2 separate regions of the Homo sapiens genome follow, and region 1 is linked to region 2. The links come from fine-mapping of genetic effects on gene expression. A gene starts in region 2. The other region holds a variant in brackets. All regions are shown on one strand. Distances are from middle to middle.

The links. PIP is the estimated chance that this variant, and not a neighbour inherited with it, causes the effect. A credible set is the group of variants that fine-mapping cannot tell apart.
Region 1: its variant is the best candidate, but not a certain one, in a credible set for the expression of VANGL1 in ileum (GTEx, PIP 0.66).

What each region holds. Positions count from the first base shown.
Region 1 is chr1:115,671,341-115,676,570 of GRCh38, forward strand. The region is part of intron 4 of VANGL1 (VANGL planar cell polarity protein 1); the gene reads left to right. Among named protein-coding and RNA genes, the nearest start is that of VANGL1, 32 kb to the left of the region's middle. RefSeq lists an enhancer at 46-600. The variant G/A (reference allele first, on the strand shown) is at 3,075.
Region 2 is chr1:115,639,073-115,644,302 of GRCh38, forward strand. It overlaps VANGL1 (VANGL planar cell polarity protein 1), which reads left to right and starts at 2,898. Exons shown (of 8, transcript NM_138959.3): 1 at 2,898-3,014. RefSeq lists a silencer at 2,630-3,619 and an enhancer at 2,755-3,513.

The sequences.
Region 1 (5,230 bases), 32 kb after region 2:
GGTGAACAGCCTGCGGCCTCCTTTCCCTGGCTGCAAAGCCGCCACTCAACTCTGCTCCAGCCCAGGTTTCGGGGAGCCGGGATCCACTTGGGCAGGCCGGGAGCCTCAGACTCCAGACTTTTCATGGTGCGCTCCTTCCTGCTTACTCAGGAGGAAGGCGAGGCAGTCCAGCATCCTGGGTGGAGTGGAGGTGTTTCGAGTCCATATCTAAATCTTTTTCTTAGAGCACCCTAAGCAGGCTGCTGTCTTTGATCCCCATGCCTCTGCTGTTTATCTTGGTGTGATTCATCACTGTAATTTAAGACGTGGAGAGAGCAAAGTTCCCATCCCAGGCAGGGGAGGCGCAGTGCAGGTTGGACTGTGTAAGGAAATGGCAGCATGGCGAGGTTTGTGCCGCGGCCTACAAGCAGGGCTGCATGCTCCCCAGGCAGACTGTGGCAGAGCCAAGCCCCTCACTTGTAGGGAAGCGTGTCTCCTAGGTGCCCCAGTAGGGGAGGTCTGCCAGCATCGCTGTGCTGTGGGGAAGGCAGCCAGAGGGCTTCATCCATAACTGGCTCAGCTCCTCAGGAGGAGACCAGCAGTGTGTCTCTGCACTCAGAACTGCCACTGGGTCGTGGTGTTAAGCCCAGGAGGGGTGCATATGTTGACAACCTTGTATTGCTTAGTTGCTGAGACCAGAAGATCCAGGTAATTGCATGAGCTATTAGCTACTTCTGGTTCTCACAAACTCCTCCCAGTGTTGATAGAGAATGGTGTCCTCCGGGCATGCTCTGGGTATAGTTTTATTTGTATTATTAGGGACTCATGGAGAAGTGCTCTGGGTGTCCTGCACACTGCACTTTGGAGATCATTCTGTGATTCCCAAGTCCTGCTGATTCCACTTCCTTGGCGCTCTGGGATTAGATATCCTAGGCTGCCAATCTGCATGTTCATCTTTCAGTGGGGATACCCTGCAGGGCTTGTCCACAGCTTGAATTTCAAACCAAAAGCCAGGTACGCTTTCCAGCCTTCCGATATTGGTTCAAAGAATTTGGCTGCCGAAGCTTTTGTGTAGCTGAGGCACCAGCAGGCCCGAGGCACGAGTGAATCCAGGTGGCCCGAGGAAGAGCCTTCCCATGGGCCTCAGCAGCCACACAGAGCCTCTGATCTGTTTCCCTTTGCGGGATGGTCAGTCTCCTGTGTCTCAAGACCTCAAGCAGAAACCTGTGGATCTCCCCCTCTATCTTGAAAGTCCAACCAAGTCCAGGCCTTTGTTGTGCAGTTTAAACCAGACCTGTCAGTAAACATGAGCTAATTCCAGTTTTTGTCCCTCTTTGTCCTTCTCAAGTTCCAAGGTGATCATTGCCTGTTATCTATGGGACTTGTGTAAGCTAACTTCCCAAATGCAGCTGTGAGACAAACATTTTAATTAAAAGGCAGAAGGGCCAGGAGATATAAACACTCATGTGCCTGGTTGTCAGTGAAGGCGGTGGCGTTCAGCGTCCAGGGGCTAATTATATTCTCTTCTCTGGGACTCACACAAATATTGCCACAAATGTACCTGACTGTCAGACTGAAGTCATTTATCTCCAAGTGTGGGGAGCAGTGAAGCCCACACGTCCAGGTAGATTTAGCTCTTACGGACTCTTCTGGGAAGCAGCAGGTGGGTAAAACTGAAAGCATCAGCTATTGCACCCTAGCTGCAGGTTTTCACAGAAAGCTGAATCAACTTGTATTGGGGATTCTGCATTTTAGAGTTCTCTCAAAGACCTAGGTTTGGGCCCTAAAATGCAGCCACCAGAGCAGGCACACCTTAAAAAGTAGGTAATGAGTGGCCTTAGTGCCTGGGCAGCCGTCAGTACTGGCCTCCTTTGGTTGTCCCTGTCCACTGACCCTCCTTCCTCCCGTTCTCTCACGTTTGCATTCATCTGCAGCCTCCATTACCATTGACCAGCTTTGCCGCTTACCTGCCTCCACCCTTCCTTCCCTAAGTTCGAGTAGTTTCCTAAGTAGCTTCCCCTTAGTTTCCTAAGGCTGAAGTAATAGAGTATAGCACAAACTGGATGGCTTAAAAGTTCTCCTTCTCAGAAAGTACAAAATCTAGGTGTTGGCACAGCTGTGCTCCCCGCAAAGCCTCTAGGGAAGAATCCTTCCTTGCCTCTTCCTAGTTTCTGGTGGCTGCTGGCAACCCTTCGTGTTCCTTTATGGCTGTGTCACTCCAGTTTCTGCCCCCATCATTACATGACCTCCTCTCTGTGGGTCTCTGTATGTCCTCTTTTTTTTTTTTTTTTTTTTTTTGAGACAGAGTCTTACTCTTTCGCCCAGGCTGGAGTGCCTTAGTGCGATCTCAGCTCTCTGCAACCTCTGTCTCCCAGGTTCAAGCAATTCTCCTGCCTCAGCCTCCCTAGTAGCTGGGATTACAGATGCATGCCACCACACCCAGCTGCTTTTTGTATTTTTAGTAGAGATGGGGTTTCACTTTGTTGGTCAGGCTGGTCTTGAACTCCTGACCTCAAATGATCTGCCTGTGTCGGCCTCCCAAAGTGCTGGGATTACAGGCATGAGCCAAAGAGGCCTGGCCACCTCTTTTCTTATACGGATACCAGAATGACTCTACCTTAACTAAACATAACATCTGCAAAGACCCTGTGTCCAAATAAGGTCACATTCTGAAGTTCTGGGTAGATGCAAATTTTGGGAGACACTATTTGCCACTACGGGTTTCTCCAAGTTGTGCTGTCCTGTGACTGAACACTGACCCTGTTGCTCTATTGTGGATGTTTGGGAGGATTAACACCAGCCTGTTTCTGCTCACACTGCTTTCTCTGCCTGGAATTTGCTTTACAGCCTGTTGTCCCTGGTGTGACCATCATTCATCTTGTAAGACTTAACAGCCCAGCTTTGCCCCCACTGTGGATTCCTGGCGGAAACACCGTCCCTCTTCTCCTGGTGTACATGTTCTGTCACGGTCTCTGGATCACTTGACTGTACTTATTGTTTGAGTGGTACTCACCACTAATTGGAGCATAAGCCCCTTGAAGGTTTCATTTACATCCGGGTCTCAGTACTAGGGACTTAGCAGGTGCTCATAATTC[G/A]TAACTGCTTTTGATGGAGTTGGAGAGGCTAGTTATTAAGATTTTTCTGAATGTAGCATCCTTAGCTGGCTTTCAGGATAGTGACTGCATGCTCTAAAAGGAGATCTTTGCAGATTTTACTCTATGATGAGAAAACTTTTTAGTACTTTTTCTGTCAGCATGTACCTAGGTAATAAGAAGAATGACGTGACATGTATTTGGGGAATTAGCATACAAGAAGTACTTTGACATTTTCCACGTGTGAAGAAAGCTGTTTTTATTGACCTAGCTGAAGGGATCAAATTCATATTTGAAAAGATGTGGCTAAAACTTGAAAAGGACTTGTCCATGGGGGATGTCTTCATCCCTTCTCCCTGCTCAGGGAGAAGTTGCAGGCCATAAAGTGTGAGGGCATCAGCCTGGATGAGCTCTAAAGCTCAATGTTAATTTCGGATTTTAATAACATGTAAGAATACAAGTTTGATTGCAGAAGCCACAATCAAGTTCAAGGGAGGGTGAATGAATGGGAAGTAGAAGGGACCATGTGTACGTCTGTGTGTGTGTGTGCATGTATGCACACATTTTTTTAGGCTTTGGTTCCTTTAGCTATAAAATAAGGGAGTTAAAATGGGGGTGGTTTATGGTCACGATTGTTTCCTTCAAGTATCTAAAAGGCTTTCACCAGCAAGGGGGACTTGGGTTCAGAACAAGGCATTGGGTGAACCAGTGGTAGAACTGAAAGGTCGTTTCAGTGTGAAAGTGAACTTTCTTTTCAAGCAAAGGCTGGATGTCATTTGGGAGCTTGTAAAAAGAATTGTTATATGGCTGCCAGGCGCAATGGCTCACACCTGTAATCCTAGCACTTTGGTAGGCTGAAATGGATGGATCCCTTAAGGCCAGAAGTTTGAGCCAGCCTGAGCAACATGGTGAAACCCCGTCTCTACTAAAATACAAAAAATGAGCCAGGCGTGGTGGCATGTGCCTGTAGTCCCAGCTACTCCGGTAGGCCGAGGCACGAGAATTGCTTGAACCTGGGAAGCAGAGGTTGCAGTTAGCTGAGATTGCACCGCTGCACTCCATCCTGGACGACAAAGGAGACTGTCTCAAAAATAAAAATAAAAATTGGCCAGGTTTGGTGACTCACACCTGTAATCCCAGCACTTTGGGAGGCCAAGGCAGGTGGATCATCTGAGGTCAGGAGTGCAAGACCAGCCTGGCCAACATGGCGAAACCCCATCTCCACTAAAAATCAGCCAGGCATGGTGGCGTGCGCCTGTAATCCCAGCTACTTGGGATTTGAGGCAGGAGAATTGCTCGGACCTGGGAGACAGAGGTTGCAGTGAGCTGAGATACGCCACTGCACTCCAGCTTGGGCGACAGAGCGAGACTCCATCCCTAAATAAATAAAATAATTAAAAAAAACAATTGGTATATGGATTGGGAGATTGGACTGATGGACTCTTGATTTCTCTGATTCTTGAATCTCTGCTTGGGTGAACACTAAGATTCCTTCCATTTCTAAAATTTTGAGGTTCAGTATAAATAGAAATGGGGTCATGCTTTTGTGGCTAGGAGCTGTGTGTATATTCTAGCCACCAACCAACCCCATCACCGCTGCAAAATGTTCATGCTTATTATTAGTAATGCGATAATTTTTTGTGTTTGTACAATGCATTATAGTTTATAAATGCCTTCACTGTCATTATTTCATTTGCTCTTCTCAACAACCACATGCAGTGGTTGGTGTTATCTCTTTATCAAAAGCCAAGAAAAAGGCCAAGAAGGGGGAAATGACTTATACAGGATTACAGGGTAGGTAGCAGGAATCTAGACCTTCTGGAATCTAGTACTCCTACAATGGATGCCTCCCTATAGGTAGGTTTGATTTTCAGGAGGCTGAGAGTTGGCAGGAAGTACTGCATAAAAACAAAGAGTAGCATAACTTTGTGGCCCCAGTCCCTAAGGAAAACTGTGCAGAGTGGACCCATCTTGGCTCATTTCCCATGGCAGTACCCTCATGGTGGGCCTCTGGAGGAGGTTGGTACAGGCGCACCTGGGATCAAGTTGGCCGCTTCAACATATATGGCCATATAAGCTCGTGGTGGCTATCGTTTATGAATTATTTACTTTGAATAACCACTTTAAAATGTGTTATTTCATCTTCAGCACAGACCTAA
Region 2 (5,230 bases):
GCTGCCCCTTTCCCCAGGTGCTCTATCCCAGGGAGATGGGAGTTTTATCTACAAGCCCCTGACTGGATCTGCTGCCTTTCTCTGAGATATGCCCTGCCCAGAGTGGAGGAATCTAGAGAGAAAGTCTGGCTACAGTGGCTTTGTGGAGCTGCAGTGGGCTCTGCTCGGTTCAAACTTCCCAGTGGCTTTCTTTACACTGTCAGGGGAAAATCATCTACTCAAGCCTCAGTAATGGCGGATGCCCCTCCCCTCAACAAGCTCCAGCATCCCAGGTCGACTTCAGACTGCTGTGCTGGCAGCAAGAATTTCAAGCCAGTGGATCTTAGCTTGTTGGGCTCCATGGGGGTGGAATCCCCTGAGCTAGACCACTTGGCTTCCTGGCTTCAGCCCCCATTCCAGGGGAGTGAGCAGTTACGTCTCACTGGCATTCCAGGAGCCACTGAGGTATGAAAGAAACCTTCTGCAGGTATCTCAGTGTCTGCCCAAATGGCCGCCCAGTTTTGTGCTTGAAACCCAGGGCTCTGGTGGCATAGGCACCCAAGGGACTTTCCTGGTCTGTTGTTTGTGAAGACCATGGGAAAAGCATAGTATCTGGGCTGGAATGTACTGTTCCTCACAGCACAGTCCCTCATGGTTTCCCTTGGCTAGGGGAGGGAGTTCCCCAATCCCTTGCGCTCCCTGGGTGAGGTGACGCCCCACCCTGCTTCAGCTCGCCCTCTGTAGGCTGCACCCACTGTCTAACCAGTCCCAATGAGATAAGCTGGGTACCTCAGTCGGAAATGCAGAAATCACCTGCCTTCTGCATTGATCTTGCTGGGAGCTGCATACTGGAGCTGTTCCTATTCAGCCATCTTGCCCAGGTCCCCCGGCATGTTTTTTTTTTTTTTTTTTTAATTGAGATGGAGTCTCGTTTTGCCCAGGCTGGAGTGCAGTGGCATGATATCAGCTCACTGCAACATCTGCCTCCTAGGTTCAAGCAATTCTCCTGCCTCAGCCTCCTGAGTAGCTGGGATTACAGGTGCCTGCCACCACGCCTGGCTAATTTTTTTATTTTTAGTAGAGATGGGGTTTCGCCATGTTGGCCAGGCTGGTCTTGAACGCATGACCCCAAGTGATCTGCCCATCTCAGCCTCCCAAAGTGTTGGGATTACAAGCTTCAGCCACCAAGCCCGGCCTCTACATGGCATTTAAAGGTGAATTTATTATTTTAAAATAGGTTATTTGCAACTACCCCTCTTTCCCACAAAACATCATCTGGTAAGGTGGCTAGACATAAGAACCTAAGTGAATTAGAATTACTTTCTGAAAACTCATTGAAGATCTCTGTGTTAATTGGAGCTATTCAGGTACATGACTAGAATTGGAAATCCCTGGCCTGTTTGAACTTTGAAAGTTCTACATTTTAGAGATGAGAGAGACATGTTTTTATAATGTTCTACATTTCTGACCCTGAGTGCTGATTTGGGTGAATAGACCATTGGCTTTACCCATAGGAACCTGGCTGCCTGAGTCAGCAACATCTGCTCTCTGGAGCCTACTGGGAGGCTGGGGGTGGGGGAGGAAGATGGTCTAGGCCACTGAGTGGGGCAGCAGAGCCTGGGGACTAGGAGTGGTGAAAATCAGCCACATTGAACATATGGGTGTCTTCTCAAGGAAATGTGACATATGCGAGAGAAAATGGAGTCTAGAAGGGATGAGGAAGAGGTGATCAAGGGAGTGAGGGGTTCTTGGAGCCAAGGTTCCCTGATTAAGGCTAGTCAGGGTGGGCCTGCATTTCCCCACCCCAAATGCCCGCAATACTCCTGTAGACAACTCTTAGGAAATTCAGCACTTCATTATACACTGCTTCCACTGGAAAATCCTGCCACGTAAGCAGCTTTGGGTCCCAGCTAGATTGGAGATGATCAGTAAGGAACCCTAATGCTACCAACACAAGACAACTAAGAAAAGTGCAAATATTCATGAAAATCGTTGCCAACTGTTTTGTAATCCTCACCACAATCCTGCAAGGTGGACAGCAGCATCCTCACCACTTTTCAGACAGGTAAACAAAGGCTCAGAAAGGAAACAGTACCTGGTTGGAATCAGCACTGAAGCTTCAGCTACCTGCCTGCAGAGATGTGCTCATCTAGCAGTTTCTAGGAGACTAGGCTGGCGGCAGTGCCTGCTCTGATAAGGGAGGAGGAGGGGAGAGGCTTGCTGTGGTGGCTTGTAGGGGGTGTGTGTGTGTGTGTGTGTGTGTGTGTGTGTGTGTCTATTTGTGGGGTCATTTCCAGGGCTACATGTGAGTTTAAGTGTGTGTATATGGGTTGAGATATGGTGTATATGGATATTTGTCGGTCAGTTCTTGGAAAGTGTGTATATGAGTGTGTGTTGAGTGGGGTTGGGGGGTTAGTCCCTGAGCCGTGTGAATATGTGGATGGGGGCACTCGTGAGGGCAAATGGGCTCGGATTTTGTGCATGATTGTGTGTGTGTGTGTGTGTGTGTGAGCTTGAGATTCCAAGTATGTGGGGGAGGGAGGGGGCGGTGTCGGAGATCAATCCCTGGGCCATGTGTTTATAGTGTGTGTGTCTGCCCAGAAGAGAGTGGGTTACTGGGCTGTGCACGTCTGTGTAGGGTGAGTGTGTGTATGAGGGTGAATGAGTGTGGGAGGTGTCATTCCCTGGTCCGTGTGTAAGAGTGTGACCGCGCACGCCTTCGTGTGTGTCCCGGGTGTGTGGGGTCGGGGCGGTGACGAGGTGAGGGGGACGCCGGCCGAGCCCCGCCCTCCGCTGCAGGTGGGCCGGCCCCGCGGCGGGGCCGGCAGCGCTAGCTGTTCTTGGCTCGCGGCCGCGCCGGGCTCGCAGGGCTGGGCTCGGGCTGCGGGGCGGCGCCGGGACAGGAAGCGGAAAGCAGCAGTGCAGCGGCGGCGGCGGCGGGGCTCTGCCTCTCCAGGAGCCCAGCGCAGGCCGCAGAGCCGGGGCCGCTGTGAGCCGAGACCGCGGGCCGCGGAGCTCGGGCGGCCGGCGCGGAGGTGAGTCCCGCGAGAGGCCGAGCGCTGCGCGGCGGCGGTCCCCGGGGCAGACCGTTGGCTGGGAGACGCCCCCACCTCGGACCCCGCGTGCCCCTGCGCCCTCCTCCCGCATTCGCCCCGCCGGACTTCGACCCCGGGTGGCCGGCTCCCGCCTCGGGCCGGGGGCTCCCTCCCCTCCTCCGGAGCGCTCCGGGTAGTGCTTCCTCTGACTCCACTCTTCTCCCCATGCGTTGCGCCCCTCCTGGCCCTGCCGTGCGATCTCCGCCGCACCCCACTCCTTGGGGTCCCGGGGTTCCCTGCTCACACCTCGGACGTCCCTTTCTCCCCGGGCTGGCCTTTGGAGTGCGCCCCTTCGGTGCGCGTGCCGGGGCGGCGGGCAGGCCGGCAGGGAGTGGCCGAGCGTTGGAGGCACCGGGCGGCTGCAGCAGCCGTGCAGGGCGGGAGCCGGGCGCGCACCGGGGTTCCCACCCCTGGCGGGGCTCGACCCGGGCGCCGCCTGGCCCTTCGCCAGGAACCGGGACAGAGCTGGTCTGTGTGCACACCTCGCTCACAAAAAATTGAGCCGGCCCTGGAGGCCTGGGGGGCGAGTCCGGTTGCGCCTCGGAGAGCGCAACAGGCAGGTAGGAGTTTACTTTCAAAAACGCCGGGGTGGAGCAGAGGCGCCTGGCGGGTCTCTGCCCAAGGTGTCCCTGCTGGAGGAAATCTCACCGCGCCGGGGCAGCCTTCGCCACCGGCAGGACCTCATTTCCTTCTGCAGTCTTTGAACTGCCCCAAGCATCGCGCCTAGAGAAGTGTGAAGCTTTATAAAAATTTAAACGCGTCCGTGGTGGCGGCAGCAGTGGGGCGGAGCCGCGGCCTGGCTGCTGTGTGATGAGCAGATGAGACTTGGAGCTGAGGAATCTGTTGCTCAGTTTTCACTTCTCCAAACCAGGTCTAATGCCCACGCTGCGAAGGTGTTGTGAGCTCTCTTAGATTCTCCTTAGGAAGTGTTAGAGCGCCTTATGATGATGATTGTGTAGATGGCCCATGCATTTTGTTAAAACTCTTGACCTGGCTTTGGTTAGAAATGAATGTATTCTTAGACACTTAGTCCAAAAGCTAACAAACTGTAAAAGAATCTGGCATTTTCACTGACATGTTTATAAATTTTACGGGGCTGCTGAAAAATATTATAACTTGTATCACCAGTCAACAATGCTAATTAGCATTCTCCCGTCAGTGGGTGGGTTGAGTACACAGCTCCCAGGCTCTGCAAGTGAGATGGCAGAAATTGTCTGAATACAGGGAGAGGTAATTAGCCATTTTCTGTAACCACTAATTATAGAGTTTTTAGGGTTGAATTAAATCAATGTGATATAGTTGGGGCTTTGATTTGTGGGAGGAAACTGTTTCTTTTTCCAGTTCAAAGAAATAACACGCTTCACCTATCCATGAGCATTAAACATTCCCAAACGTTGATGTCTCTCAGTATAATTAGTGAAAACACTCAGTGTGGAATTTCACTATTAACAATGTTGGCAGTGAGGCTTGCTTGCAACTTAATTTGTAAGTAAAATGGGAGAAGAATTTTGAGAGTGATATATTTGTAAGGACTGCTTGCCAAGCAGTACATTTTTATTGTCTTATGTATTAAGCAACAGGACAAAACCATAAAGGAAATTTAAAGTTTCTTTACCAAGCAACAATTCCATGTCACCCTTTGTTTGAAGGATAAATGTGTTGAATGAAGAAGGCATCCTCCCCTTCATCATCCCCTTAACACACTTATATACACACACTGTGCTTGCTACCCTAGGCCTTATCAGCTATTTTGGTGGGATGGGCCCTTGTCACATTGTGTTTTAATTGGAGGTCTCCACATTGGGGCTGTGAGCTCATTGGGAGTTAGAACTATTTTAGATCCATTTCTTTTCTCCTGAGTGCCCCACGATGCTTGGAACACTGAACCTGTGAGTAGAAGTTGAAATTGCAAAATTCTTAGTGGGGTTATATGTGGTTTGGGACAATTTGTGATTGTTGCTTATACTCCTCTATATAAACAAACAATTCTAGTAATTGCTACAGTGCTGTCAATTTTCTGTAGCTAAGAACACAGGTTCTGGAGTTAGACTCTCAACGTTTAAGCCCTGGCTCCTGTGGCAGTCTGGTTTCCCTAACTAACATGATATTAATGTCTTATTTTTCTTAAACACTTGTTATGCGGATTAAGTGAGATA